Regions from separate parts of the Homo sapiens genome. Here region 2 is linked to region 1. The links come from fine-mapping of genetic effects on gene expression. A gene starts in region 1. The other region holds a variant in brackets. All regions are shown on one strand. Distances are from middle to middle.

Region 1 (16,277 bases):
CTTATATAAGAACAAATATTGTTAAAATGACAAAATTACTCAAAGCAATTTACAGATTCAATTCAATCCCTATCAAACTACCAATAAAATTATTCATAAAAATTTAAAAACAAACCATAAAATTTGTACAGAACTACATACAACCCCAGACAGTCAAAGCAATACTGAGCAAAGAACAAAGCTGAAGGTGTCACACTTACTGACCTCAAAATATACTACAAAGCTGTAATAAGCATGGACTGGCACAAAAACGGACCCACAGACCAACAGAACTGACATAAAAACAGACCCATTGACCAAGAGAACAAACACATAGATCAATAGAACACATAGAACAAAAGAACATAATCCATGTTATCTATAGCCAACTGACTTTTGACAAGACCACTCATTAGGAAAAGGATAACCTCTTTAATAGGTCGGGAAAAGATTTCATGAATAAGACCTCAAAAGTGCAGTCAATAAAAGCAAAAATAAATATGATTATCTCAAACTGGAAAACTTTTCTGCACAGCAAAGGAAACAATCAAGAGTGAAAAGAGAACTTACAGAATGGGAGGAAATACAACTACTCATCTGGCAGAGGATGAATATTCAGAATATAGAAGGAACTCAAACATCTCAACAGCTAAAAAACAATCAATCCGATTTTAAAATCGGCAAATGATCTGAACAGACATTTCTCAAAAAAAGACATAGAAATGGTCAATAAATATATGAAAAAATGCTCAAAATCACAAATCATCAGGGAAATGCACACATATCAGGAAAATGAAGACCACAACAAGGTTCACCCCAGTTAGGATGGTTATTATCAAAAAGATAAATAACAAATGCTGGCAAGAATGAAGAGAAAAGGGAACTCTTACACATTATTGGTAGGAATGTCAACAGTACAGCCACTAGGGAGAACAGTATGAAGGTTCCTCAAAAAACTATAAATCGAACTAACACACAATTCAGCGATGCCACTACTGAATATTTAACTAAAGGAAAGGAAACCAGTATATTGAAGAGAAATCTGCACTCACATTTTACTGCAGCACTATTCACAATAGTCAAGATATGGAATCAACCTAAGTGTCTAACAACAGATTAACTGATAAAGAAAATATGGTATATATACACAATGGAATACAATTCAGCCATAAAAAAGAATGAAGTCCTGTCATTCACAGCAACATGGATGGAACTGGAAGACATTAAGTTAAAAAGATACCACATGCTCTCTCTCATATGTGGAAGCTAAAAAAAGTTGATCTTATACAAGTAAAAAGCAGAACAGATGACAGTAGAGGCTGCAAAGGGTAGGGGAAAAGAGGGATAGGGAGAGATTTATTAAAAGACACAAAAGTACAACTAGATAGAAGTAGTTCCAGTGTTCTATAGCACTATAGGATGACTACAGTTAACAATAACATATTATATAATTTCAAATAGCTAGAAGGAGAATATTGAATGTTTCTAACCCAAAGAAATAAATATTTGAGGTGATGGATATGCGAATTACCCTGATCTAATCCCATTATATGTAATGAAACATTACTATGTACCCCATAAATATGTACAATTATTATTTGTCAATTAAAACAAAATTTAAAAAAAAAAGTACTCTTGGGACTTTGCTAAAAAAAAAAAAAAGTTAAAAATCTGAATTGTAGGCTGGGCATGGTGGCTTATGCCTTTGGGAGGCCGGGTTGGCAGTATTGCCTGGGGACAGGAGTTAAAGGTTATGATGAGCTATAATCATGCCACTGCACTGTAGCCTGGATGAGAGTGAGACCCTGTCTCAAAAAAAAAAAAAATTCACTGATCAAATTAAGACACACATTTCAAAGTCACAGAGGTGCAAATCAATGTATGATAAGCATAAGAAAACAGGAAAAAAGTACTATCCTTTATTGTTTCTTAACATGGGCAACTCTCAAAAATTTGTTTTGGGTATTCTTAGACTACACATCACAAAAACAAAGGAGAATTATACCTTTAGCTAGATGGTCAATTTAACTGATCACCAGTGATTTACACTTCTCCTCCACAGTATAAGTTGTGCTAAGTGGCTGCTCAGCCAGGGACTATACTTCCCAACCCATTTGCATCTTAGCAAAGCCATGTAACTGGGTACTGACCAATGTCATAAGGGCAGAAATGACATACAACACCATCAGGCCTAGTGAGTAAAATCTCCCATATGATTCTTCATACTCTGTCTTCACTCATCTGCTTGCCAATGTCAATGCCTATGGTGAGCTTATAAGCCATGTGTTGAAGGTAACAGCTTCTTTCAACCTGGATCCCTGAAAGATTTCTCAACTATTAAACCACTCAGATTTTAAGATTTCTATTATATCTGCTGGCATTACTTTAAGCCCAACCCTAACACAGACAGAGAAAAAACTGTTAGTGATAAGAAAACTAGGTTAAGCAGTGTCAGAGATGTTAAGAGGTAAAAGTATTTAAAAACAAGGATGGTGTGGGTAGCAGTGCTAAACAGTGAGGTCAAGATTAAATACACTGCAAGTAAGTTCCACAGTAAAAAACACTGGTAACCACCTAAAGAGAAAATTTCAGCAGAGATATTAACAAAGAAGGCAGGTTGAAGAATAGGAAATACAGTCTACTACTATAATTCTACTCAGTGTGTTTGCCGAAACATTTTTCATTCAAAACCTATTTCCATAAAGATAATTTTGTCAACAAATGAGTCTGGGAACACTGCATACTACTAACTTCTGAAAATGTATATAAGCATATTACATAATCTGAAAACTCCTACAATAAAGAAACACTTTTGTCTTTGTTTAAACCAGCTTTCCCTTACTTAGTTGACCATAAAATCCTTTTTCATTCAATACATACTAAAACCTTTCATTTCGGGAAATAAGAATAGAAAAAAAATTTTTTTAAGCTAAAAGAAACCAGAATTATATGGACAAAAGGAGAAAATAATGCTTGTAAAAAAAATGTATGTGAAAATGTTCTAACACTTAAAATTCCCTTCTAATAAACCAATTAGCTATTTTTTTTTTTTTGAGACGGAGTCTTGCTGTGTCACCCAGGCTGGAGTGCAGTGGCACGATCTTGGCTCAATGTAAGCTCCACCTCCCGGGTTCAAGTAATTCTCTGCCTCATCCTCCCGAGTAGTTGGGATTACAGGCGCACACCACCACGCCCAGCTAATTTTTGGTATTTTTAGTAGAGACAGGGTTTCGCCATGTTGGCCAGGCTGATCTTGAACTCCTGACCTCAAATGATCCGCCTACCTCGGTCTCCCAAAGTGCTGGGATTACAGGCATGAGCTGCTGCGCCCGGCCCCACTTAGCTAATTTTAACTGATGAGAGAATTATAGTAACTATAGGAACATCACATTCAATACAAGAAAGTGAGGTCTCAACTACCGTGAAGAGAGGATGGGAAAGAGTCCAATAAAAATGGGCAAAATAACACATACAATACTTAAGACTTTAAGGTCAGGCATGGCAGTTCATGCCTGTAATCCCAGCACTTTGGGAGGCCGAGGCAGGATTGCTTGAGCCCAGGAGTTTGAGGTGACACTGAGCTATGATCACACCACTGTACTCCAGCCTGGGCAACAGAGGCTCTGTCTTTTTTTTTTTTTTTTTAAAAAGACTTTAAAAAATAGCTTTAAAAACACTCTTACCTTCATCTTTATACTTTATTGTTACTTCATCATTACTCAGAAGTTTTCCTCTGAAAACTCGTTGCATCATTAGCACTAATTCATCATAAGTAATATCTTCATTATGAATAGGAATTCGCCGAATATCCTCCCCAAGTTGAGCTTTGATGATTAGCTTCCCACTTAGATCCAACTGTCCGTTCATGGTGGACTCCAGGATGTTCTATATATACAACTCTAGAGAAAGACTGATAAAAGTGGTTTTGATAATTAAACAACAAAACATACCGTAAAAGTTGAGAGCAAAGCTACTATTAGATGCTAAGAAACTCTAGCCTCCAAAAGATTCATTATCCCCATGTTACCATATTTATGTTAAAATGGTCTGGAGGCAACATTATTTTACTGTAGGGATAATAAAATAAGCTTTTATTTTACGTCTACTATTATTTTTTCTCATATTTAACTGTTCATCTGACATGACCATTTAGATTTTTCTTAATATATCTAAAAATAAATTCCTGATCTTCCACCTAAAACCTGCCTCTCCTAGAGGCTTCTTTATCTTCCTTCGAGTTGTATAAGACAAAAAAATCTTGGTTGATCTCTCTCTCTCAAACCTTACATCCAAACTGCCAAGAAAATATGGTTGCCACTGCCTTTAAAATAACTCTGGGGTCCAACCACTTCAGCACCTTCACTGCTATCAACTTGATTCAAGCCACCATCATCACTTGCCTAAATGACTGGAAAAGACTCCTAACCAGTCTGCCTGCTTTTTACCTTTGCCCACTTTTAATCTAGTCTCAGAACACCAGAGTTAACACTGTTAAGTAAAACCTAGTATCATTCTGTTCAAAACCTTCCAATGCATTCTCATCCCAAAAAGCAAGACCTATAAAATCATCTGGCCTCCAGTCCCTGGCCAAGTATTTAACTTCATTTCCTACCTCTCTTCTTCACTCACCCCTGCTATTCCCATACTTCAAGTTTTCCCTTTGTCTTGACCCTTTCTGATACCCCTCATATGATTCAGATTCCTTATCAAGTGTTAACTGAGAGAGATCTTTCCTAACCATCTAATTTAAAATGGCTCCCCTGGCATTATCTTCTTATCCTGCTTTATTTTTCTTCAAAGCACTTAACACTACCAGACATTAAAAATTTATAACATTTTATTGTCTTTTCCACTTGATGGTAGGAAGTAAACGATTATGTTTTCCATATTCCCAGAGTCTACAACAGTGCCTAGCAGACAACAGTCATTCAACAGCTATTAAATAAAGGGAAAAATAATGGATTAATATCTCTTCTTCTCAAGGCCAAGATGTTCCTGAATGTTATCTATAATCGCTGAACATTTTCCAAGCATAACTCCTTCCTCCTCCTGCCCCAAGAAAATGATCTCTTGAGACTTTTCAAGGTATCCTACAAACTACTACTGGCCACATTCTAGTTTCAACTTCCCGCCTTACTACTAGCAGCTTTCTGCTTCCTCCTCTTAAATCTGTTATTTCATTAACACCACACTTCTCTGCAATTATTCTTTATTCTTTCGGGGTATGTGAAAGCACTCACCTACTCCCCCAACATATCAACCCTTCAAGTACTTCAAAAAAGTTTTCATGAATCCTATTATATGAATATTATATATTAATGCCCTACTATTCTTCATATAAATACGCTAGGTCCTTCCATCTAACTAGTCCTTAAATTAATATCTCTAGACCCCTCACCATGCTCTCAACAGATATTTTATTAATAAATCTTCAATGAAATGGGTCATTAAAACTAAATATAACACTCTAAGGTCAATGCAGAACAGAGTGAACTGCATTCCACTCTAGGGATGCCATGCTTATCTTAATGCAAAATAAGAATACAGTTAGCTTTTTATCTGCCAGTTCTCACAATGGACTTCTCGTGAAGACAGTGATTAACAGAAATCTCCACACAACCAACTCTTCGCCTTCTGCAATGCCTTCTGCAATGCTTTCGGTATTCAGGAACTACTTATTAAATACCTACTATGTGCCAACTCTAAAGTATAATTACTTCACCAAGATGGTAAATATTCCATCTTGCTTGCTCTGGCAGCCTAAGAGTAATAAAGACCTTTCAATAAATCAATGTATTTGTTACCTTCTCCTTCCTACAAGAAGTGTAAACCAGCAATAATGTAAAAGGAACCAGTGCTTAGCTTCAGTGAGCTGGTACTATCTATTCCCAGCAGCACCTAGAAAAGTGCCTGACATATAGAATTTAAAGACTTTGTTTAAATTTTTTAATTATGGGAGAAGAAAGCTGTAATATAGATCAGTTTTTACATCCGACCCCTCACACTGTACCTTCTTTATGTAGCTAGAAGTGACTTCCATCAGACACACTCCTAATTAAGAAAAAAATTCCAGCTTTGAAGATAATTGATGGTATGTCCTTCTGACTGGGGTACGGGTTTGTTGCCCAATTTCAATGGATTTAAAATTTGAGGGCCGGGCACGGTGGCTCACACCTGTAATCCCAGCACTTTGGGAGGCCGAGGCGGGCAGATCACGAGGTCAGGAGTCCAAGACCAGACCGATCAACAGGGTGAAACCCTGTCTCTACTAAAAATACAAAAATGAGCCAGTTGTCGTGGCGCACGCCTGTAATCCCAGATACTCAGGAGACTGAGGCAGGAGAATCGCTTGAACCCGGGAGGCGGAGGTTGCAGTGAGCTGGGGGATCACGCCACTGCACTACAGCCTGGGCGACAGAGCCAGACTCCGTCTCAAAAAAAAAAAAAAATTGAGTCACGTATACTTTCTATCTGCCGTGTTTACCTGCAAATTCACTTTTTGTGTTTCCTATTGACTGTAAACATCTTGTGGCCAGGAACCAGTGCTTCTTTCCTAAAGCTGTCGTTTGCTCTTGCAGTCATCTCCCCAGAGTAAACACAAAAGTATCTCAAAAGTAAGTGTGCAACAAAACTTTCCCTTCAAGGGGAAATCCCAACCCAACATTACTTCACATACAGAATTCTGGTACTCATTTTCTCTTCCAAAGTAGAGACTGGTATTAACTAGTTCCTAGAACTGCCAGTAGGAGCCCTACGACAAGCTCTTCTCCCATCTTGTCCTTGCCCCGCCCCCTCTGAAGTCCAGAAATGACTCGGCTTCTAACTTGTATAATATAACCCTCTACCAGGTACACTTTTCTCAGCACTGGGAATAATCTGACACGCCCAAGGTCATATAAAAAGCCTGCCTCCTGAACCAGGTTCTAGGTTCGGCGGACAAACTTCTGGTTCTACTACCTCTAAGGGTAAGACCCTGCTCAATTTCAGAGGCTGTGGCTTAAGCACCTCCTGAGGGGAGCAGTTTCCTTCAAGAAATACTAAGCCAAGTCAACCTGTAATTATTCTAAAGAATGCCAAGAGGCCTCAAACCCTGCCTCAAAGGCAGTGCAGCAAGACGGTAAAGATTCTCACTACTAGCTATGTGATCTTAAGTCCTCCAAGGCTCACTTTCATCACATTCGAAATGAAAACAACCATATCTGAATTTGGAGGAATCCTTGTGATGATTAAATGAGACAGTGCATCCAAAATACTTACTGTAGTGTCCAGCAAAGCAAACTCTTAAAGTTAGCTAGAATCATCACTATAAACCAGGCTGGGCCTCCAGCCGGCGCTTGATTAAGCGCTGACTTAGCCAAGGAACTAGGCTCCGATTCTATGACCCCAATCAACTTATTCCCGTAGGCGCCACTCCACACCCTTCCGAGCTCCTTCGGGTATTGGGCGCCGGCCGCCCCAAACCTCCCAAAGCCCCTCTCCTCTCAATCCAAACGCTTGGAGGCAGGCTGCACCAAGGCATTAGCTGGCGCACTCCCCTCCCGGAGCCCCCCAGGCGCGCCTCCTGGCCACCGCAGCCAGGGGTTGCCTCTCTCCCCTCCCCCTCCGCGACCTCCCTTCCCCTCCCCCCATGCAAGGCCCCGCCCGCCCTCCCCCCCGGCCTCGTCCTCCCTCCCACCCCCTCCTCCCTCCCACCCCCTCCTCCCTCCAGCCCCTTCCCACAGTGCCTCCGACCCCAGCTGCCGCGCGGTTCGAACGAGGCCCTCCCAGCGCCTCCTAGTCTCCCGGCCTCCTCGGACAGAGCGCCCGCAACCCCCGTCTCCAGTGGCCATACCGGCTTGCGGAGGCCGCGGCCGCCGCCTCTCCGCAGGTCTCCGCTGAATGGGCGGACGCGAGGCCACTGGACTGGGGCGTCGCGGGGAGGCGGTGGTCACGGCCCCCTCGGTTGCCCTTCGCGACCGCCGCACCTCGCTCGCAGGCTCGCGCGGGCCCCGGCCAATCGCGCTGACCCAACAAGCCTAGCGAGAACTTGGGCTCTGTACGTGGCAGGTGGGGGAAGAACAGAGGCGGGAGCAAGAAAAAAAAAAATGTCCTTTCGCCCCTCCTTATTGCGCGTGGACATACCCAGGACGCATGCGCGACGGCGCGAGGCGCAGGGCTGGCTGGGTCCCGGCTGCCTAGGCCGAAGAGTCCCTGCTTTCTCACTGGATGACGGGATTTAGGAAGCGTGAGCTGCCCCGATGCACGCATGCGCGGGGCGTGACCACGCACTTCCGGTTTTCTCGAAAGCGGGTATTTCCGTTTCTCGCCAATGGGCGGGGCGTAGTGCGCTGTTCTAAACTTTTTGAGAGTTGGTTGCAGTAGACGTCTGTCCAACTTTAAGTGGTTTTTGTCGTTATTGTTGACCATTGTAGTAACAGCTGAAAAAGAAAAAACCTTTTCTTCTATAAATCCATTCATTCATTATTGGGAGCCTATGCTTTGCCAAGCCCGGTTCTAGGAATGGGGGTGAATCATTTTGTGAGCAAGGAGTTTCCAATTAAGCAGGGAAGACCTACAGCGTTTATGAGCAAGGAAAATCTGTAACTGTGTAAAGGACAAAAGCTGGGAAATTAAGGCTAAAGATTCCTGAGTGATTTTTAGAGGATAAGGCATTTGAGTGTGTCCTACGTACTCTTCCCTTCTCCCTTACCTGTTCAAATAGAAATACAGTATGAGTAAGTAGGAATTTATAGCCAAGGGGTGGAAGTCGGTCAGTGGATGGAAAATTACTAAGAGGAAATATCAGGGGCAAGGGAGATTCTGGCTAAACCAACACAACAGGATTCTAGACGAAGATAGGCCAGGATAGCAGACATCACCTGGGGGTGGTGGAGGATGAGGAACCCCATCAAGGGTGAGGGATTCTCACTACACTGCCTTAACAAGGTTCTTTGCTGAAACTGAGTTTTACAAGAAGATGCACAGATGGTCCTAGGAGAAGGCCCAGGAGCCCGAAGTTTGGCCAAACGGAGAATGTTTGTCACTTCTAAGGTGGAGACTAAGCTGATAAATAAAGCATTTAGACCCTACCTGGTCTCCAGTTGTTTACCAGTTATAAAAGAAAAACTTAAGCTGAATTAAATTTAAAGGAGTTTAATTGAGCAGTGAACGATTTCACGAATTGGGCAGCCCCCAGAATCACAGCAGATTAAGAGACTCCAGCAGAGCCACGTGGTGGAAGATTTATAGACAAAAAAAGGGAAATGAGGTACAGAAATTGGCAGTGAAGTACAGAAACAGCTGGATTGGTTACAGGTTGGCGTTGGCCTTATTTGAACACTTAGCAGTCTATGAGTGATTGAAGTGTGGCGGCTGGAATTGGCCAAGACTCGCTTATTGTAAGAGACGCATACTTCTAAGTTAGGTTTTCAATCTTGTCTGTTAAGCTAGGTTACAGTTCATCCACAAGGATTCAAGTATAGATGTATGGAGTCCTTCTCAGGCCATATTTAGTTTGCTTTAACACCAGATACTCCTAAAGGACCTGGAGTAAATTCTGGTGTTTCAGGGTGAGAAGCTACGTTCTTTTACAACCATAAGTAGTGTGATCTTTTTCAGTTATAAGTCTCTGAAACTTCTGTTTGAGAGTGAAATAATGTAAGTTTACACTGTTCACTTCTGATTTGTATTTTCCAACAGTTGTATTGACCTTTGAGCAATTGTTTGCAGGGATAAGGGAGTGGAGTACTGCAGAAGAAATGAAAAACAGTTCCTAATTGCTCTCCAAAGAATGTTATTCATTGCTTATTTTTTAAAACTGAATAATACAGATTTGGGGAGATGCACTGCTGTCAGATAATAGTATTATGATGTCATTAAGATGGTTTGGGATGGGGTAAAACCACAACCATATGGCAAAGGTAAAATATTCCCTGAAGGAAGTGAATTATACTACTGTTATAGTAGTATATTTAAACTAAAAAGAGGTCAGATCCTGAGGCAGGAGATAAGGAGGTGAACCTTGGCCTATTATAAGGTGAAAAGAGTATCTGCTGAGGATCCCCAGTGAGGGGGCACTCAAGAGTCCTGCTACTGAGGAGAAATAAGCTGGTCCCTGTTACACTGTGGTCATCTGTACGCTAGGAAGAGAGGCACCCATAAGCTGGCCTTGTGGAAAAGCTGGAGCTCATGGAGCTCATGGACTCCGAAAGCAACTTGAGGCTCTTTATGTTGTAATTTCCCTCATGCTTCATCCCGAAGCCATCAGTAAAGTCTTCTTTATGGTAAAGCCTATTCCCAGCTACTTCTGTGGAACTTGAGAGGTGGGGTTCTGGTGATTTCTCAAGTCGAAGCTGATGCACATCTATGTACTTAAGCTCCCAATAAATACAGGTGATATCTAGTGACAGAGCCATAACCTGAATTGAACCAGTTACCTCACTTACAAGAAGATGGGTCTCTTCTACTATGTCTGTAGATACATACTGGCCTTCTTTTCTGCATCTAGATGAATTTGGTTTTAAATGAACACTGAGCATAGTCTTGAACTAGAAAATACTACTCATTTCTTCCAAGGAACTGCTAAGAAAAAAAAGAAAAGAAAATACTGCTTAATGGTAGTATATTAAAGTTGAGGATATGTGAAGGAAGGAGAAGGAGTGCAAGGAAATATCTTTGACCCAGACTGTAGCAAGGAAAGATATGAGATTCTGCACTACACAGGTTATTTTCCATGTTTCATCTGAAGAAGGGTTAAGACTTACACTGTGATTTTAAGAGAAGGAGTCAACCAACCAACTTAGCTACCACCTGCTCTTTCTCCCTGAAAGTCTGTGTAGCTAAAACTCCTCACATGGAATGGGGGGAAAAAATCCTAAGAATGAAAACGGGATTCTCAGACTGGACAAGAAATGAGACAAAGACTATGAGCCCTGTTAGCAAGTTAGATAAAATCTATGTTTCATCATGTTCTTCTTTAGTACTTAGTATAAATCATTTTGAAAATTTGAGTCATCTTATATGTCCTCAGAAGAACAAAGGAAAGCGTGTACATTCCTCCTTGGATGAGAATTTCCAACGAGAAGTTATGTCCCTTGCCAAGAATCAGCTCTGTTGTGGCAGCAGCTAGCTAAAAAAAGAGAACTCCAAACAGAAGGGGAATCATGAGGACCAAACAGGAGCCAGCTAGTCAGCTCAGCCTCACCTTCACTGGCTAAATGTAAAGATTTGCTTGTGTGAACATAGGAAGCTGCCACCCTATGCAGAGATAATGAAGGAGAAAGGAACGATTTCTTACTTTGTACCTTTGAGTGAGTGATTCTTAGCACTAGCTAAGCAAAATACTTCAACCTGTCCTACCAGCTTCACATCCGTGAAATCCCTAAAATGCTTTTGCCTTACCATGATGCTCTATGTCCAATCTCTCTTTAGAGAAACTACTCTCAAAGGCAGTTCTTCCTAGATTTTGTATCACTAGAGGCTGATCTAGACATTCAATACATAGTTATTGAATAAAATAATGAAAACTAAGTTCCCCACCACTTTACAGGGCAAGCTCCCAGAAAAAACAAAAGGATCAGCTGTCAACGGGTAAGTTCCTAACTCCCTAGCCATGTAGGATTTGTCTCTTAGTAATTTGAAATCATTCACTTTTCTTCATTTACATCCCCTGGAGACAGTGCTAAGTTACCTCTCTGCTAAATTACCTGTCAGATTTCAAGTTGAAAGAGAAATGCAATTGTGAGCTGAATTGCATCCTTCCCCCAGAATTCATATATTGAACCACCTCAAAAGGTGACTGTATTTGGAGATGGATTCTTTAAAGAGGTGATTAAGTTAAAACGAGGTCATTGGGGTGAGCCCCTAATTCAGTATGACTGATGTCCTTATAAGAAGAGGAGATTAGGACACACAGAGAGAAACCAGAGATGGGTGCACACAGAGGCAAGGCCATGTGAAGATACATTAAGAAGGCAGCCTTCTGCAAGCCAAGGAGAGAGCCCTCAGAAGAAACCAAACTTACCAAATTTTTATTTCCAGCCTCCAGAACTATGAGAAAATAAATTTCTGATGTTTAAGCCACCCAGTCTGTGGTGTTTTGTTATGGTAGCCCTAGTAGACTCATACAAATGCCACAAGATGTGCAAGAAGATATAACTTTTCATTTGATCAAGAGTAGCTTTGTTAGGCTCATTTAAGAAACCTAGGCCCAATTAGCCGGGCATGGTGACATTCGCCTGTAATTCCAGATACTGGGGAGACTGAGACAGGAGAATTGCTTGAACCTGGGAGGTGGAGGTTGCAGTGAGCCAAGTTCGTGCCACTGCACTCCAGCCTGGGTGACAGAGCGAGACTCCAGCTCCAAAAGAAAGAAAGAAACCGAAGCCCAGTGTGGTGGCTCCTCATGCCTATAATCCCAGCACTTTGGGAGCCCAAGGCAGGATGATCACTTGACCCCAGAGTTTAAAACCAGCCTGGGCAATATAGTGAGACCCTGTCTCTACTAAAAATAAAAATCAAAAAAATTAGCCAGGCATAGTGGCATGTACGTGTAGTCTCAGCTACTTGGGAGGCTGAGGCAGGAGGATCCCTTGAGCCCAAGAAGGTCAAGGCTTCAGTGAGCCATGATCTCACGCCATTGCACTCCAGCCTGGGTGACAGAGTGAGACTCTCTCAAAAAAAAAAAAAAAAAAAAAAAAGAAGAAAAAGAAAAGTAAAAGAAACCTAGTTGCCAGAGTCTAGGAATCATGCATATCAGAGACAAAATCAAACTCTGGGTACTTGGAGACACTCATGTCTCTAATCTAACATTTATGCCAAGGATCCTGCTTTTAGTCCCTCCATATAAATGCATAATTAAACAGCATTCTCAAAAAGCCATTTCAATAAAGAGAGACTTATAATAAAAGATGCAAAGTAAAACCACAATGAGATACCATTTTTCATATATTCATCTGAGAAAAATAAAATAGTTACATAACACTTTGTAAAAAAAAAAAGTATGTGGCAAAATAGGCATTCATGCTTTGTTGTGGGGACATTAGTTTGTATCAACATCTAAAATGCCTTATGACACAACAATTTCATTTACAGTGTACCAGAGAAACGCTTGCACATAAGAGCACACCCATTGTTTTGTTTTCAAATGAAAGACTATAGAGCAATTAAAAGAAATGTACACATGCATACAGTTAGATATCAAAAACATTTTGATGAGTGCAAAAAGCAAGTTTTAGGAAGTTACGTTAGTGTGAAGAAAATAGTTAACATAGCAGCCTGAATCTGCTGTCCTCAGAAAGGCCCACTTGCAAGATTGGCCGTTGGCTGGTGTCTGAGAAATTGGATTTTAGGAGTGTTCTCATCCCATATTTGATAAGAATGGTGAACTGTGTCTAAACTGTTTGTACAATGTGATTTATGCAGAATACCTGCTTTCTTGAAGTCTAGAATTTTGGTACATGCCAGGCAGTGGGTGCCTATGTGACCAGGCCCCAATAAAAACCCTGATTAATGAATCTTTCATGAGATTTCCTGGTAGACAATATTTCACATGTTGTCACAGTTTGTTGCTGGAGAAATTAAGTGCATCACGTGTGACTCCACTGGAAGAGAACTCCTGGAAGTTTGCTCTGGTTTCCTCTGCACTTCTCCCCATGCAACGTTTTCCTTTGCTGGTTTTGCTTTATATCCCTTCGTAATAAATAATAGCTATGAATGTGAGTCTTTGCCGAATCTAATGAGTGCTTCTAGTGATTCATCAAACGTGGGAGTGGTCTTAGGGACCACTGACACAGTTCCTTATACCATTTATGTAAAAGAAAGTACACAAGACTATGAGTTGCTATGAGTGTATAATGTATGCACATATTTCTTTAAAATCTGAAAGTTTACACACAAAGCTCATTACAGTGGTTAATTCTGGGGAGAAGAGGAAAAAGACAAGAGGGGCTTGGATTTGGTGGTAATGGTCAAAGGGGACTTTAGCTCTATCTGGAACACTCTAATTTGTTCTTTGTTGTTGGGTTTTTTGTTTTTCTTTTAAGGAAAACATATTCATGTGTTTCTTAGATGAGAAAATATTTTAAGTTAATTTAAGAACAATTTCAGCCTGCAGTTAGATTCACAAAATTTTAGAGATAGTAGGAAATTTAGAGTTCACCTAGTCTTGCCAGTTCCTTTATAGAGACAGAGCCTCAGGTTCTGATGCCTGGGTAAATGGGGTAAATGTCTTGCCACAAGTCACATAACTTATAGCTGAGATGACAACTCCCAGTCCGGAATTCTTCTTTACCCTGCTGTTGCCTACTGAGTACAGGGCTAGAAATACCATTTTCTTTTTTTTATCACAAAGGTCCATAAAGTCTCAGTTGTTATATCGTGGCTTCATAGCAGCTTATATTAAAGTTCAGCAAATTATAAAGGTCACACTTCCACGTGTACAAAAGCACCAACTTGCAAGGTTGCAAGAAAAATACAGATAAGAATTGAACTATAGTTCTATGAGAAATACTTTGTAAAAGATAGCAGCGTTAAGGCATACCACTCTGCGTTCCTTTTTCTTCTGTTTGTTAAAGGGTTAACATATATGGAATTTTTTTAGAAACATGATCAGTGGCCTACAAAAAATATAAATAACCTATTTTCAGTTTCTGAAATACTTCACAAATTGGACTTCAAAACTTTCATATATTGCTGTTGGGAGCATAAAATGGTACAAACATTTTAGAAAACTGGTGGTTTCTTTTAAAGGTAAATACACACTTACTCTATGACTCAGCAATTTCACTACATATTTCTTATTTAATTTTTTTTTTAGATTCAGAGACGGGGTTTCACCATGTTGTCCAGGCTAGTCTCAAACTCCTGAGCTCAAGCAATCCTGCCCTCCTAAATTGCTGGAATTACAGGCGTGAACCACTGCACATGGCCAGGTATTTCAACAGAGAGAGAGAATAAACATACCCACACAAAGACTTGTATAACAATGTTAATAGCGCTTTAATTTCACAATAGTCAAAACTTGGAAACAACAAAATGCCCATGAACTGGTGAATGCATAAACAAATTGTGGTATATCCAAACAATTAAATACTACTTAGCAATAAAAAGAAACTAACCACTGATACACACAACAATATAGATGAATCTCAAAAACATCCTGAGTGAGAGAACCTAGACTCAGAAGAGAACATACTGTATGATTCGTGTGATATTCTGGAAGAGACAGAATGGTGTGTATCTGATGGATCTGATGATAGAAAGCAGATCAGTGGTTGCCTGGGGATTAGAATAGGGGAAGAAGCATGAAGGAATGTTATGCAGTCATGGAAACATGTTTAATCTTGTCTGGCACAGTAGTTTTACAGGTGTATGAATTTGTTAAAACTCATCTAATTGTGCACTTAAAATGAGTGTATTTTATTGTATATAAATCATACATCAATAAAATTAATTTAAAAATGAAAAAAAGCAAACCCTCTACCAAAGCAAGCAAGCAAAAGGAAAACTAATTTCACCAGTCAAAATTAAGGAACACAAATATAAGACAAAAGACAAAAAAAAAAAAAAAAAAAGGCCCAGCCCAGTGGCTCAAGCCTGTAATCCCAGCACTTTGGGAGGCCAAGGTGGGCGGATCACGAGGTCAGGAGTTCGAAACCATTCTGGACAATATGGTGAAACCCCGTCTCTACTAAAAATACAAAAATTATCCAGGCATGGTGGCGCGTGCCTGTACTCCCAACTTCTGGAGAGGCTGAGCCAGAAGAATCGCTTGAACCCAGGAGGCGGAGGTTGCAGTGAGCCAAGATGGTGCCACTGCCCTCCAGCCTGGGCGACAGAGCGAGACTCCATCTCAAACAAACAAACAAACAACAACAACAAAAAACTCCTCACTGATCCACTTTTGATACTAAAGTTTCCTGTGGTGCATTAAGTGTGTCTTTATGTGTACATAGTATTGTGTAACTTCAGAGTAACACTGATTATACATAACTTTTCAGTGTATGCACTTAGCAGACTTGCAGGCATGTATGCAAATATACTGAATTTACAAATGAGATATAACAATCTCATCTTGGTCTCCGTTCAACATAGTTTGCCCTCTGATTTGGTAATATATTCAAATGGACATTTTCAAAGAAACTTAATGCCAATTTCATGTACAGTCAAAATAATTGTATTTTCGCCAAGAAATTCTGGTTTAATTGTTAAGAGATGGATTTGTGTAATATTTCTATATTTACGTTGAGTGTTAAAAAGCTTACAGTCTAATTTGTGGCTGATTCCTAGCAAAATTACAAGATTATGATTCTTGGGTCTCA
Region 2 (16,277 bases), 40 kb before region 1:
CCCAGTACTCTGAAATTTTGTAACTCATGTTTTAGTCCTTTTTCTTTTATTCATTTTGCTGGGCAGAGTAGGTCTTTTCAATCTGGAAACTCTTGTCTTTCAGTACTGGGAAATTTATTACAAAGTTTCTAGGATAATTTTCTATCTCCTTTCCTTTCTTTCTTCTACAATTCCTACTAGTTGGGTACCATATTCTCTGGAATAATTCTCCAACTTTCTTTTCTCTCATTTTTTCATCTCTTTGACTTTTTGTTCTAGTATTTGTGAAATGTCCTCAACTTTATCTTCCAAAACTTCTATTTGAAGTTTCTTACTTCAAATAACTGTTTCCTGAAACTTTAAATTTTATTTTCTATGTACAATCAATATTGAGACATTTCTCTTAGACCTATGATGTCATTCATCTGTGACAAAATGTGCTTCTTCAGAAAAAATTTTACCAACACAAATAATTTTTGTTATATAGGGTTTAATCAGGCCAAAACAAAAATGTGCCTTTCAGTTCCCATGTTAATTAAATTTAGTGCAAAATAATTTCTTTGAAACTTGTCAAATATCACAAAATATTGGCCAAAAAAAAAAAAAAAAACCCAAAAAGTAGCTTGTATATGTGGCATGCTGAAAATGGAGCTTAAGTGTACGTAACTGTGAAATAAAAAGACATGGAGACAATTCCAGCAATCAGACTTGGCCAAAGCACAGGGCTTTTGGCAATGGCCTGGAACGAATGTGGAATGCACTGCCCATTTGAATCAAAGTCCAGATGGCTATGATTTCTTTTTTTCCATTTTCAGTTCACTGTAGTTCTATGGGCTTTTTTGTTTTGTTTTGTTTTCAGGCCTCTTAGCAAAAATTTAATCTCTGGAAAATATTTCATGTGAAAATACCCCATGTGTGTGTGATTTCTGTAGGTGACAAAGGTGTTTTTGTATCAACAATCTCTCATTGCAAATGACAATGACAAAGGCATGTGCCACCATGCCCAGCTAATTTTTGTATTTTTAGTAGAGACAGGGTTTCTCCATGTTGGTCAGGCTGGTCTCAAACTCAGGACCTCATGTGATCTGCCTGCCTCGGCCTCCCGAAGTGCTGGGATTACAGGCACGAGCCACCGCACCTGGCCAGTTTTAAAGTTTTGAAAAGCAAAAATAGTAACAGTACAAGTGTTTTGAGCCTCATTGCTCTCAGCTGAAAATTAGGATAAGATTTATCTCATCAGGGTTTACATGTGTTGTATTGCTTTATATATGTAGAATGTCTAATGCATCTGATACATAGTAAGCATTCAGAAAATGGTTGCCATTGTTGTAGCACTAGAATCTGTTCTTAGATACTAGCAATGTTAACACAATACCTCAGTGATCAAGAAACTGACTCAAATTTTTTTTCCTGCTCATTTAGTACCATCCGTACCAAACTGACAGCTGTCATCCATTTTTCACTTGTTTATAAAATATCTATCTTTTGTGCATTCTGCATTCTTATTTAATTATAAACTTCTCAAAGACGAAATTTATCTCCCAAAAGCCTTGAGCAAATCTGAAACTCTCAAAATATTATTAGCTGACTCAGGTTGACTTTTGAATTCAATGTTCTTTCACTGCCAAGTCCACTTGCTGCTGAAGGGAAATCTTAATTTCAGGCAAATGGCAAATTGCTTTACTGTTTACATTTCTTTAAAAGATTTGCTTTGCTTACATATTTTATGAATAAAAATTGCTAATACTGCACAATAATTTGAAGAATAATTCTTAAGGATACAATCAACGGAACTTATAATTCCAAGGGACCTAGGGTTGTTTGGGGGTTTTGTTTAACAAAAGGTTAAGGGACTGGCCGATATGAATTTGGGGTATGGAGGGAGAGAAATGCCTGTGTTTGTGTTCCTGCTCTTTGTAAGGCAACATTACCATGCCTCTTTTCTGGAGACATCATAGAATCCTGTGATCCACAGAAGACCCAAGTTCCAGGCGATACAACTAGGAAGTCCTTGCAAAGAAACATTTATGTGTATCTATTCCCATAGCTTAGTCTACAGTTAAACAGACTAACTATAGCTTAGTCTAGTAGTTCTCAAACTTCAGTGGGCACATGACTCACCTAGGGAAGTTATAAATTCTTACCTGAATCTCCTCAAAAATTGCTTCAATACCTAGAGTAGGACAAGACACTTTCACCACTGCCACCCTATGATGTGATTCTGACATAAGTAGTTCAAACTCCACAGTGAGAAAGATGGCCTAAGTCCAGGGTTATACTCAGGGTTGGGATAACAGAAAATAAAATGGAATCTTGCCACTTCTTGGCCCCAGGAAGTAGCTGAGACATCTTAAAGAAACAGGCTCCTTGTTACTGGAATTAGCCTTTGTCTACCATATACCACTTTCTTATATGTTTATTAACCTGCCAAGTCATTTGTACTAATTGGGAGATTTTTAAAGACAACCATCTTTTTTATTAACTTAATGCTTACTCAAACATTAGACAAGCTGTTCAGATAGTAAAACTAAGAAATCATTTTTCTTTCCTCAACCTGCTTCTGGAACATATGTTACCATTCACTGTCATAATTTCAAAGGGATGTCAGTATAGTGGATGTCCGTATAATAGGGCAATGTTGCCTCCTAGCCCTCAAGAATGTATTACAAGTATTTTTTTATTTTCCCCTAAACAGTTATGAATTCCAGGTGAAACCCAAAAACCCGCTTGGTGAAGGCCCGGTCAGCAACACAGTGGCATTCAGTACTGAATCAGGTAATTACATCAACAGTAATTCCCAAAAAGGATGTAAAAGGGCCACAGTGGAGCAATGTTTTGCGTAGGAAGTTTGTTTGAAACCCACTACATGTACTGTTTCTTGAATTTCTAAAAACCCATTTGTGGGAAAAAGCAAACTGATGAAGGTTTAGAGAAACACCATGCATATTTTTCCTCACTTAAAGACACATCAGTTTAATTTAAAAAGCATAATGAATCTATACTCTTCCAAAAAGCTAGTCAATGAATCCTCTCCTGCATGTCTAGAATGAAAATACCAGTGAGTACATCCACAAAGGGAACCCATGATAGTTTAATAACAGCTGTCAAACTTCCCAATTAGACCTTACAATCTCCAATTCCTTAATGAGATACATCTGCACATACAGCATTAATATTTGCATAATTTTTATACCAACTGTAGTTCATGGCATCTTGGTGATTTTTACCATGAAGTTTTTCTATCAAACTAAAAGCAGCAGCTTTTGAAATTCAAGTGAAAGCTGGAACAGCGACAAATGTTCCTAAGTACTCAAATTACATGTAACAGATACAGCTGAATACCTACCAGGCAGGAGATTATTCAATCAAGAACAATTTCCAAAACAAAGCAAACTTTCAAATTCAATCCTTAGCAAAAGAGTACCATTTTGCAAATAAGACTTCTTAACAAGTGTAAGCCCCCATCATCTTCACCATGCCACTGGAATGTTGGGGTTTTACCTAGTAAGGTCTGACTTTTCTATTTATTTCTCCTCAGCGGACCCAAGAGTGAGTGAGCCAGTTTCTGGTAAGTACCTGTCTCAATGAGGCACAACTACATGCTTTTCTAAATTTATTCAACTGAACAGGCATGGCAGAATCTGAATCATGATTTCGCGTTTTTCCACTTAGTCTTCTTATAACACCAAACAGTTGTGAATGTTTACCTACACATTGTACAACACTGAGGACCCATGATGTTCTGGGAACAAGTTGGACATTTTGAAATTTGCTTTCACTCATGCACCAGGCTTATTACTGTTTAATAAAACAGCCAGTGTAATCCCAGCACTCTGAGAGGCTGAGGTGGGAGGATTGCTTGAGCCCAGGAGCTGGAGACCAGCCTGGCAACGTAATGAGACTCCCTCTCTACAAAAAATTTAAAAATAAAAAATTAGCTAGGCATGATGATGCACACCTGTGGTCCTAGCTACTTGGGAGGCTGAGGTGGGATGTTCACTTGAGCCCAGGAGGTTAATGCTACAGTGAGCCATTATCCAGCTTGGGCAACAGAGTGAGATCCTGTCTCAAAAAAAAAAAAAGATATTAACACCCTCATTTCCACTTTTAATAACAAGTCATATTAAAGCAGTTGTCTAAACTTTATAACATGCTACAAAAAAGAAACCTAAATTTGCTCCTAAATGACACTGTCTACATCCAGCTCTGCAGAGGCTATTCAACACCTAAACACCTTAACATGCTGCTCTCAGATTTATCTATTGACAGAAACTTACTCTGGGGTTTACTTGTTTAAATCCCTCTAATATTTTTGGCTCCAGTATTTAGCATGGGGGGAAAAAAAGGTATCAGCAAGTTGACAAATTTTGTAAACTGATTTCTTGAAGTATCTGACCCAAGAGTCAGATACTAAACTCAAACTATTTTCCTTTTGTAGCAGGAAGAGATGCCATCTGGACTGAAAGACCCTTTAATTCAGACTCTTACTCAGAGTGTAAGGGCAAACAATATGTCAAAAGGACATGGTATAAAAAATTTGTAGGAGTGCAGCTGTGCAACTCTCTCAGATACAAGATTTACTTGAGCGACTCCCTCACAGGTAAGCAGAGCTACCAGCTCTGTTTTCAGCCCTTAACTTATGGGAATGTTTTGCAGCATTGTACAACTTGGCCTTTTCTTAAGAGTTTCAGGCACGAATGGGTGCTGTAAACACAAGTTTTCCTCTGAGCAAAATGTTACGGAAACAGTTATCATTCCTAGAAAGCAAGGATTTAAGACATGCTATTAGAAGGTAAATAATAAAAATGCAATTATAAAACAGTGCCATCATGACAAACTGGAATGTACATTCACTAACCATGGTCAAACTCCATTTTGTTACAACCATCCAGGGATAAAAAAACCGACTGACAATAAAGTGACTAAATCTAACAATAACCATGGAATGAATATAACATCTTCAAGATGCTAGAAGAGCTACAACCCCCTGCTCCGTGCCCAATAGGTTATAATTTTCTATATTTACAGAGTAAAAATTTTTAATGAATAGGCCTGGCCCTAACATTAAAAAGTAGATTTTTTTCAGTCATTCAACTCTTCTAAGTGCTGAACACAAAGCAGCATAAAAGATATTTCCTATTTTCCTAAAGCTTACCTCTCCTTCCCTTCCTTAGTAAGAAGAGATAGACAATACATAAATAAGTAAACATTTCATAGAGGTACTTTAAAGAACATTTTCAAAAAGGTGAAGGCCTCTCTAAAAAGTTAGTTAGCACTAGCTAAGGAGAAAATTGAGAAGGAACTAACCACACAAAGGTCTAGAGGAAAGAGAAGGTCAAAGGCCTAAGGTAGAATACACCTGGCCAGTTCCACCAGTATGGCCCAGACTTAGTAAGTGGAGGGGCAGGCAGGTGTGAAATCATGTGGAGTTTGAAATCAGGTAAGAACTTTGGATTTTATTCTGAGTATAATGGGAGACTGCTGGGGAAATTTATGGAGAGAACGAACATTAACTGACATGCATTTTTAAAAGATCACTAATCCCTGAAAGGGAGGGGAGGAAGAATACAGGTAGGCAAGAAACATTGTTGGTTTGAACTAGGGTAATAGAGAATGAGGGGAGAAAGTACAAAAACAGTAATGATGATTTCAAAATTGTCACATTTCAAAGTAAGAAAGTAAACTTTATCCTTTTAATTTCTGGTTCTTCAGGAAAATTTTATAACATAGGTGATCAGAGGGGCCATGGAGAAGATCACTGCCAGTTTGTGGATTCATTTTTAGATGGACGCACTGGGCAGCAACTCACTTCTGACCAGTTACCAATCAAAGAAGGTATGTTTTCTGATCCTCCTCATAAGAACAGAGTTTTACAGATTAACTCAGAAAGAAATCAAGCTGAGGAAAGCAAGCAATTTAAAAAGAATTCTATAGTACTACTGCTCCACATATCTAGGAAAAAATGAAGACTTCAATGTAAGTTTCTCAGCTTAGAAACCTGGAGCCAAGGGAAATTACAGACATAATATAAATGCATTCTACTTCAAGAAACTCTAAACTTGCAAAAACAGCTATAAAAAAGCAGTTTCCCAAACTTAAATCACTCATTTATTAATGTTATGGGTTTTGTCATACTGAGTGTACTTGCGTTATTTTTATTTCCTTAAGAAAAAAAATTTTTTAACTACTGCTATCATAAATGGAAAAAATAGTACTTACCTTGCAAGTAACTGTATAAATATAATTAGAATAATTCTGTGGGAAATGAATAACCTCTGTAAATTGCTAAAGACCCATTGGCACCAAGCTGTGTAATGAGGACTGAATAAGACTGAAAATTAATCCTTGTCTAAGCAGTGCAGAAGGGGGTAAATTAATTGTTCCTATTAGTCCAGAATCACCTGGAGGTTCTCTAAATAAACTATTTGATTCGATTTTTCAGTAACACATTTTGTTCACGGGCACTTAAAAATACCAACAATACTGAAAGATGACCTACTAAGTTCTTTGAACACATAATGGGCAGTGAAACTCACTACCAACCATCCCCTCCTAACTTGACACGGCAAATGTCAACAATTTTTCAGGTGCCCATTTTAGCCAACCATGACTACACCTCAGGAAAAAACACCAGAACTTCTTGCTCTCAGTTTTCTAAATTACCTCGCTTCACTAAGATTAGCCTTCAGCTAGTCAACGACATCCTTCAATCTATGAGCTGTGAGGGCAAAAATATAATACAGCAGCTATTAAAATGAAACTATTTTCTCTCTCAGGTTATTTCAGAGCAGTTCGCCAGGAACCTGTCCAATTTGGAGAAATAGGTGGTCACACCCAAATCAATTATGTTCAGTGGTATGAATGTGGGACTACAATTCCTGGAAAATGGTAGATGCTGCACAAAGTTACCTTCTGTTTCATCATTGCAAACAAAAATCATTGAAAATACTATGCCGCATTCATTTAAAGCTATTTTGTTTACTATGTATAAAAGTCTACAATCTAATTAATAGCAATACTAGATGTTTATTATTAGAAAAGATTGCTGAGAGTATTTATCAGGTTTTACAAAGTCATTTTAAGAAAGCAAGATACTGATGTTAACAGAATAACATTTTTGGGGAAGCTGGCTCCCTATTCATGGTATTTTAAGAGATCATTTGTATATTATTTATCACACTGTTGTAATGATGTTTTGAGATACTTTTATAACAAAATTAACATCAAAAAGGTATATACTTTTTAAAAAAAATTTACTTTTATTGATGTGTACTCTTCCTATTGATGAGTTAATTCCATAAATCTCTACTTAGTTTAACTTATTGGATCAAATTATCTTCAGCATGTATATCTGGGGAAAAAAGGTCCGAATTTTCACATTTATATTTAAACTTCAATTTTTTATATTTAAACTTCAATTTTTTAGCAACAGCTGAATAGCTTTGCGGAGGAGTTTAATAGTTACACATTCATGCTAATATACATTTCCTTTAAACATCCACAAATTCTTAAAAAGATTGAATCAGTAAATTTCATTTCAGCTAAAAATGGAGTCTAATATATTGTTTCAAAAGATACATTTTTACCCACCATAAATGTTACAATATCTGAATATGCTTTGTCAAACTATCCCTTTATGCAATCGTCTTCATATTGTTTTTATGATTCTAATCAAGCTGTATGTAGAGACTGAATGTGAAGTCAAGTCTGAGCACAAAAAGATAATGCACGATGAGATTGCCTACCATTTTATAGGATATTTACTATGTATTTATACGTTAAGACCTCTATGAATGAATGTATCAGAGAATGTCTTTGTAACTGTTTAATTCAATCTGTAATAAAAATCTAACTAACTAACTCATTTATTTCTATTAAAAAGGTATTGTCCTTTAGGCGGGGAATGGGAATCCTTGCTGCACTGTTGCAGTCATTCTGAAAGGACCTTTCCCTGTACTTACCTTTCAACATGCTTCAATCTTATCAACGCTACATTTTGTATTTTTCAAACAAGTATAAATTCTGCAATAAAGAGATGTAGTTTTTTTTTAAGATTGAGTTTTTGTTTGTTATTTCTGAATGGTTCATCAGTATGTTAACTATACCTTTTATCGAGAAGGAAAATCACTAAGTTTTATTCAGGCTCTACCAACCCCCATTATATCTACTGTTTGTTTATGTCCTAAATTAACCTTTCATCCTATGAAGTAATAAAGTTCATTTTAAACCAACGATTACCAAATGCATTTTTTTCAAAGGAAGGGCAAAAACCAAATGGCACTGTTTTCTCTGAATGGAAATCTGTAAGTTAGTTAAAATGTTTATACTTCATTTTAAGACCAAACACCAATAAGGACTTCTGAAAAATTGTTCCTTTTTTCACATAATGTTAGTGACTAAATTAAAATTTCAAGACCACTAATGGATTCAATCATCTTTATTAACCTATCATCAGTGTTACATTTTATACATAATATCTTGTATTCTCAAAGGGCTCTACTTTAGTACATCATGTTAATAGTAAAAAGCCAAGTAAGATGGCTAAACCTCACCCTAG[C/T]ATTTTAATATCCTCCGGACAAGGGAAGCTAGAAAGTCAAGTCAATCACTTTATACATGTAAGAGTAGTGTTCCAAAGTAACTAAGAAGCTGCTACATTTTTAAGCAGGGAGGAAAAAACTTTCATTTTGGTCTTTGTGTTCCAGCAAATTATACTTTCAATTAACACCAACAATGATATCATAAAAAATGCTCTGCTTTTAAATTTCTGAACTTCTTCAATACAAATTAAAATAGTACTGGAGTCTTTTGGGAGGCCAATAGCTAGCAGCTACATTAATTGGTGTAGAGGAGCCTCCTTATCGATAACCAGGTCCAGGTTGGGTATAGCCCTGACCAAAGGGAGGACGGTTACGCGCATAAGGATTAGGCCCACTTGGAGGAGGGGTCATGGTACTTCCAGGAAGTGAAGTAAAACCTGGTCTTGGTTGATAGGCCCCAGGTTGGCTTGGAGCCATTCCAGGTTGAGAGGCAGGAGCCACAGTATAATTAGTAGGCTGAGAAGTTTGGGCAGTGTAAGTTTGTGCAGGATAATTGCTCGCCTGGTACTGCTGTGGCGGCTGAGCAGGCAGTTGTTGAGGCTGACCAGAAAAGGCAGGAGCTGGTGCCTGGGAAGTTGGTTGCTGGCCATATCCCTGGAACTGCTGAGGTTGTTGAGGTCCAGTCTGCTGACTATAGCTTGCTGAAAAGGCAAAATAAATAACATGTATCTTATCTTTTAGTAAAACTACTTTTCCAAAGAATTAGTCTTACTGTTAGGTGGACCAAAAATGGTGAGAAATTTAATAAATATGTATGTAACAAGCAGAGTGGTAGATTCCATCACATAATATTTCAAGACCAAGTAGTTATCAAAGAGGCATTCTCTACAATTTTTTAAACTCTCTAAGACATAATCCCTGAGAGCAAATTCCTGACATAGCATAATTCCTAGAACAGATGCTCAAATGATAAATGAAAGAATTATACTTTCTAGGAAGACCAAAAATGGGAAAGCTAAATAGTCATTAACCAGGTTTTCAGGGGAGACCTACTTAACAGTATCAAATAAAAACACATTGCGGAGAATGAACATTTTTATATGAAATAATACTATAAATACATCTTATTGTACTAATCAGGTGCTTTAAATTTTGCAAATAAATAAAAAGTACCATTTTCACAATCTTTAAAATCATTCCTTTTAGATTTGGTATCTGATGTTTTTTGCCTTTACAACTCAAAATTTTTACTTAGCAGTACAGCATAACACATAAAAAGCATACCATATTGCCCCATAAAAAGCAACATCTATATTCATTATTTACTAGGATGTAATTTTTTTTACAACGAAAGTCTGCTTCACTGAAAACTTTTATCTCTACCATGAAACACACCTGCAGCTACTTGCAATGAAACCTCTCCATTGACTGGAATCCTGTCAGCATTAAATACCAGATACATAAGAAAATTATTAAAATATGTACAACCCTGCATTAAAAAAAAAAAGGATTGAATGAATTTGAGTATATTCTGAACTCACCTTGAACCTGGGTTCAAAATTTACTCATGAAAGAAACCTTTATGACATAGTCCATGAACAAAACTGGAAAAGGTCAGAGGGAAACTGGCAAACCAACAGTGTCAAAGATGGTCCAATGTTACCACCACCACCTCTTAGTCTCCAAGCAGAGTATTTAGTTGACTATTTCCATATCTCTCAATCAAATTCAAGTTAATAGACTAGTAGGATCAGAAATACAAAGATAATAATTTGAAAAGACTAAATTTTACTCAGAGTGAAGACCCTGACTAAATTTATTAAGAGCAAGCTTAGTTCTTAATAAGTAAATCAAGTATCTTTAACGCATTAACTCATGGTAGCATCTAAATACTGACCTGAAACCAACTCATAAAAAATTCTGAATGTCATACAAGTTCTCCTATCCTCTACATAAAACTTAAATTTTCACTATAAGGTTTTGAAGAAATAGATGGATTCAGCTTTATACTGAAAATGCCTATTCATTTTAACACTGCGAGAAAAAAGAAAAGTGCCTTTTCATCCTGGCACCTGAAATCTGAATTGTTTTTTTTTAACTGGGCCTGGAAGTAATCTGATCCTTAATTATTGCTTAGGGGAGGGAATAACCCTACAGGCTGAAGATTTCATTAGCAGCCCACCAGTCTCTTGAACATAATGTGGCAATGCTTCTATCATGTGTGTGTGTGTATATATATAGTCTCCCTTCCGTCCCTCCAAAATAATAAATAACTTTAGGTGAAGGACATCAGAAATAGCAAAAAAATGGAAATATGGAAATTATGTGAGTTTTTTTTTTAATACATAGGACATCTAGCCTTTTATGGAGTAAGTCTGCCAACTCCAGTCTAGGTTGTAGAATGCAGAATGATACAGGGAAATACTGAACTGATCCAGCTCCCTCCACTGAATGGCTGTATGTGCTTTGACAAGTCACAATCTCTTTCAAAACTAGTTGCCTCATTTATAAAATGCAAACGCCTGAGTCCCACACCCAATCAAATGAAATTCAAAATCTCTGGGAATGGGGCCCCACACATAGCCTCCCCCAGGTGATTCTAAAGCATAGTGAGGACCGAAATCCCGAGATTAAATGATGACTAAATCTCTTCAGCTCTGCTATTCTTTCTATAAATAACATAGTTTGTAACACTGATTTTTTTAAAAGAACTGCATCCTAAAAATAACCTTCCTCCTGATATAATCCAAACTTAAGTTCTATGTATTTTATACAATTAAAAACAAGTAGCTACAAGTTAAGTCACTCTACAGCAAATACAATCTAAATAAAATTGTGTCAAAATATTTCAAATTTTAATTAATGACAGAATGTTATGGTCTAGGTCAGGAGTCAGCAAACTTTTCTGTAAAGAGCCAGATAGTAAATAGTTTAGGCTTTGTGGGCCACATGGTCTTCTGTTGCAACTACTCAACTCTGCCATTCTAGTGCCCAAGTAGCAGTAGAGAATATAAAAGTAGAAGTGTGTTCCAATAAAACTTTATTCAAAAAAACAGGCAATAGTCCAGATTTGGCCTGTGGGCTATACTTTACTGACTCCTGCTCTAGCTGATACCACAAAACTCTATAAAATAGAATTTAGACTAGATTCAACCTGCATAAATTATTTCTAATTACAGTTGAAATTCTGATACTTCAATCTTTGGCTGTAAAACAAGAGTTGGACACAAACTCTCTGACATAACTGTAAAAAATACTGGAATTATAGCCAAAGTTACATTAATAATATTTATCATACTTAAATACATATAATCTTCAGTGGACAGATGGTAAAATAGAAACAAAATACTCAGGATGCTTATTTAAAACAACTAAACAATGTTCTTAGTTGCCTGAATTACATTTTATACGATTTTATTTTTATGGCCTATTTCTGGTATTCCTACATACTTGCAAGAGATTTTAAAATCTAAGTAGCTTAATTGAGCTCTTATTTAAATAACATCACCTTTCCATGTATAGTAAACTGTTCATATTTCTACAGGTACTAAGAGTACACTGGAATTACGTGTTACATATAAATGGAGAGGTGGAGGGAAGGGGGAAAACTTGCACTAAGTCGCCTAAGAGATAAACTGATAATGTTAGTAAGACAGCTTTGTATTAAAAACTTTTTATACTACAAGTTACTGCAGAATCATCTACTGTAAGTTTTATCTCCCCACCAGAAAACTGAAATGTTGATTTACAATATTAATGTAAAATATTTAAAAATAAATAAAACAAATGTTGTTTCCCCTAATAAAAACTTAATACCTATTATATCAATGTACTACAAATCAAGGAATTAAGAACTTAAAGTTTAATGAGTATAGAAACAAAAAACCATGAGCCAACTCCCTTTCAACACCTGCTCACCTGAATACTGAATACCATACTGTTGAGGCTGCTGAGGTGGAGCCTGCGGCTGCTGTGCACCATAGCCGGCCTGTTGCTGGTACTGTTGGTACATCTGACCTGAAAACACACACACACACACACAAGGAAAAAAGGCATGTTTAATGTGGCAAAGAGAAATATTTTTAAGATACATATACATTCCCTCTCCATCCAAACAGAGTAACAATATACAAGAAAGTATTTGTTCAACTTTAAATGTCTATGAAGAAGAGAATGAACCATTTTAGAAGTGTGATTCCTCTGCTGTGGATTAACTGCAGAGAACTAACTGGCAATAAACATTAAGTGCAACACCAGTGGCTACCATTTCATAAAGTCTAGAAAAACAAATGTTTTCCAACCCAGCTGCCAACAGATAAGTAACGCTAATGTTCATTAAAAGCCAAGTGAGTTGAAAATCAGTAAATAAAAATGAGAAAAGGGACAAATACCATTTATATCATCTAAGTCCTTCCTAAAGCACTGTATTTGCCCTCTAAAGGTATGGGCCTCTATTACCATATGAACAAACTCTTTGGTAGCAAGGAACTATATGACATCTTTTGTTCCAGAGCTGAAAGACACTTTTGGAATTTGTCAAGTTTGATTTTCTATGAATATCCAACATCTTTTGCCAATAACGTGGACTCTAATAAAGTCTAAATGGTTCTTCATTGCACTATTTAATAATGGCAGACCTTTTTAACAACGGTGATGTGTTCTTGAACATGGGAGTCCTATTTGTCCTATTTGGGGTCAACAACCACTGTTCCTATGAAGAAACCCTTTAGACACTTATTACCTATGATTTTTCTTTTTACTTTTTATTTTTCTGTCCTCACAATCTGTTCCCATACCTGTGATTTTCAAGCAAAGATTTATTGGTTTATGTCTTTATTATCTCTACTTCTCAATTATTTCACAATGGTTGATTTAGCTAGATGTAATATCTAGTAGCAATAACCTTGCATTTTAATATCTATCTGGTATTTAAATCTTTAAAATAATCACATGTTGGCTGATTCTTTGAAAAATATTCAAACTACCTATTAATCAAAAGACTATGAGCAAACCAGATACTTACTGCTGAAGTGAGAAAAAAAAAAAGACATTATATCAACTCCCACTCAAATCGAGCTGCAGTAGGCAGCTAGGACTCACAGGCTTAGAAAATGAGACGGAGCCCACTCTATTATACCAGCTGCTCAGCCCTATACGTGTCTAAGTTTTTAGTGCTGGGTAGCACTAAAGGAGATACAACTATGTTTATATCCAGCTTATTTCCTAGCAAATGTTTCTTTATAATAAAAAAAGAATACAAATAAAAATCAGCTCAACTATTTTAAGCTATTTATCCTATTCCCAAATATGACAAGAAAAAAAAAGAAACGCTTACAAAAGTTTCTTAAATGCTTTCTTAATGATTTAGACTAATAGCATAAAAGGTAGCACAGAAATTAACCAAATTTAGATGCCACCTTAATCCTGGATTGTACTTCATAACTAACTTTCGGAATAGAAGTGACCAGAATCTAAAATAAAAAGGTAAGTAGGTACAGAAATATAATCAAGGGGAATAAATACGTATAGCACATAACAATGAACTCTTAATTCTTGAAAATTAGAAGGCTTAACTCCACAATAAAAAAATAAGCAAACAGGCAATAAACACATTTAAAAAAATTCAACCATATTAGTATTCCTTATCTCAGATACAGAAAAATTAAGCAACTTACCTGCAGTCAATAGCTAAGAACAGAACCATGAAGAGCTAAGAACCATCACTGGAACTCAGGCATAACTCCAAAGCTTTAGTTTATAAAGTCATTTTGCATATATTATCCCATGAACAAAACAATATAAATATTAACTTGGGCATCATCAAAAAAGGCTGAGATTAAGGTTCCACGTAGTAGTAGACTGTGGTCATCAATGAGTAAGGAACTCCTGGTCAAAACCACAGTTATTCCCCTCAATAAAAATTTATAGGGTACAACTCTTCATAAAGCTTTTTTTTTTTGCATGTTTTCATAAACTGCTATAAATTGATTTTGAAAAACATCCCTAGAGTTAAAAATTTCAGAGGTTTATTATATCTCTACACAAGATTCCTTTTACACAGCAGATCCTCAAATAACATCTTTTGTTCGACATTGTTTCGTTAAAACACTGAGAAGGAAAAAAAAATTATTCCCAGTTGGGGTTACTGTTCTGTGTAGAGTCTGCACATTCTCCCCAAGTCTGTGTGGGTTTTCTCTGGGCACTTCAATTTCCTCCCACATCCCAAAGATGTGTATGTTAGGTTACTTAGCATGTCTAAATGATCTCAGTCTGAACGACTATGGGTGTGTGTGTGGTTGCAATGCACCCTGCAATGGAATAGCAACCTGTCAGGGTTGGTCCCCACTTTGCTACTGAGCTGATGGGATAGATTTCAGCCACCCACAACCCTGAATTGGAATAACTGCATAAATCATTATCTTATTTGTTTTTATTAATCTTTCTTAAATGTATCTATAACTCACATTTGTTTTTAGTCTTTATCTAGAAGTCTGGGGGTATTTTTGTGATCAGAGATATGCTGTAGGAACTCAACTTACTCATATCAATTAGCCTATGGTAGAACTGATTTCCTCATACGTCATCTCACTTAAAGTTACAATTTCCAAGAACCTATCAACAATGTTAAGTGAGGATTTACGGTACTTACTTTAAACCCACCTCATTCAAGTCCAAATGGGACTGTCACAGTATTCTGAAAATTAATTAAGAAGTCTGTTTAATTGTTTAAAAAAAGAAAAAGGATGAACTTCTTCACATACTTGAGAGATCTATAGGATATATGAAGAGAGCAAAATGCAGACATTGTTTATAGTAAGCAATGTTTTGAGTAATAAAAAATATGGTCATGCATTGCTTAATGACAAGAGTAGGTTCTGAAAATTGTGTCACTGTATAATCATATAGTATACTTACACAAACCTAGATGTATATAGCCTACTACATAGCTAGGCTATATGGTACATAGCAGTCTACAAACCTGTAGAGCATGTTCCTGTACTGAATACTTAGGCAATTCTAACACATGGTAATTATTTGTGTATCTAAACATATCAAAACATAAAAAAGGTACAGTGAAAATATGGCAAAAAAGATAAAAAATGGTATGCCTGCCTAGGGCACTTACCATGACTGGAGCTTGTAGGATTAAAAGCTGCTCCAAGTGAGGTACTTGTGTTGAGTGAATGTGAAGGCCAAGGACATTACTGTGCACTACTAAAGGTTTACAAACGCTATACACTTAGGCTATACTACATTTATTTTTTAAAATTCCATTTCTTCAATAAATTAACCTTAGCTTACTGTAATGTTTTTACTTTATAAACTTGATTTTTTAACTTTTTTAATACTTTAGCTTAAAGTACATTGTGCTACTATACAAAAATATTTATTCTTTATATCCTTATTCTATAAGCATTTTTCTATTCTTTTAATTTTAAATTTTTACTTTTTTAAACATTTAGAAAAAAATTATGACACAAACATACACATTAGCCTAGGCCTATACAGCATCAGGATCATTGATATCACTATTTTCCACCTCCATATCCTGTCCCACTGGAAGGTCTTCAGGGTCAAGAACATCCATGGAGCTCTCATCTCCTATGATAACAATGCCTTCTTCCGGAATACCTTCTGAAGGACCTATCTGAGCCTGGTTCTACAGCTTTGTTTTTTTTTAAATAAGTAGGAGTACACTCTAATGATTTAAAAATATAGTATAGTAAATTCACAAATGAGTAAGAGAGTCACCTATCATCA

Evidence for each region. PIP is the estimated chance that this variant, and not a neighbour inherited with it, causes the effect.
Region 2: its variant is fine-mapped to the expression of TFG in whole blood (TOPMed, PIP above 0.99). The same link has a PIP of 0.9 or more in B cells, CD4 T cells, CD8 T cells, NK cells, ileum and monocytes.

The regions. Positions count from the first base shown.
Region 1 is chr3:100,701,255-100,717,531 of GRCh38, reverse strand. It overlaps TFG (trafficking from ER to golgi regulator), which reads right to left and starts at 8,038. Exons shown (of 8, transcript NM_006070.6): 1 at 7,811-8,038; 2 at 3,663-3,889. The coding sequence starts at 3,846. RefSeq lists enhancers at 6,688-7,578, 7,579-8,470 and a silencer at 7,712-7,941.
Region 2 is chr3:100,741,089-100,757,365 of GRCh38, reverse strand. TFG (trafficking from ER to golgi regulator) reads right to left here. Exons shown (of 8, transcript NM_006070.6): 7 at 12,435-12,533; 8 at 8,402-9,217. The coding sequence ends at 8,835. ABI3BP (ABI family member 3 binding protein) reads left to right here. Exons shown (of 68, transcript NM_001375547.2): 64 at 2,675-2,754; 65 at 3,518-3,547; 66 at 4,418-4,579; 67 at 5,692-5,814; 68 at 6,756-8,210. The coding sequence ends at 6,871. Among named protein-coding and RNA genes, the nearest start is that of TFG, 40 kb to the right of the region's middle. The variant C/T (reference allele first, on the strand shown) is at 8,537.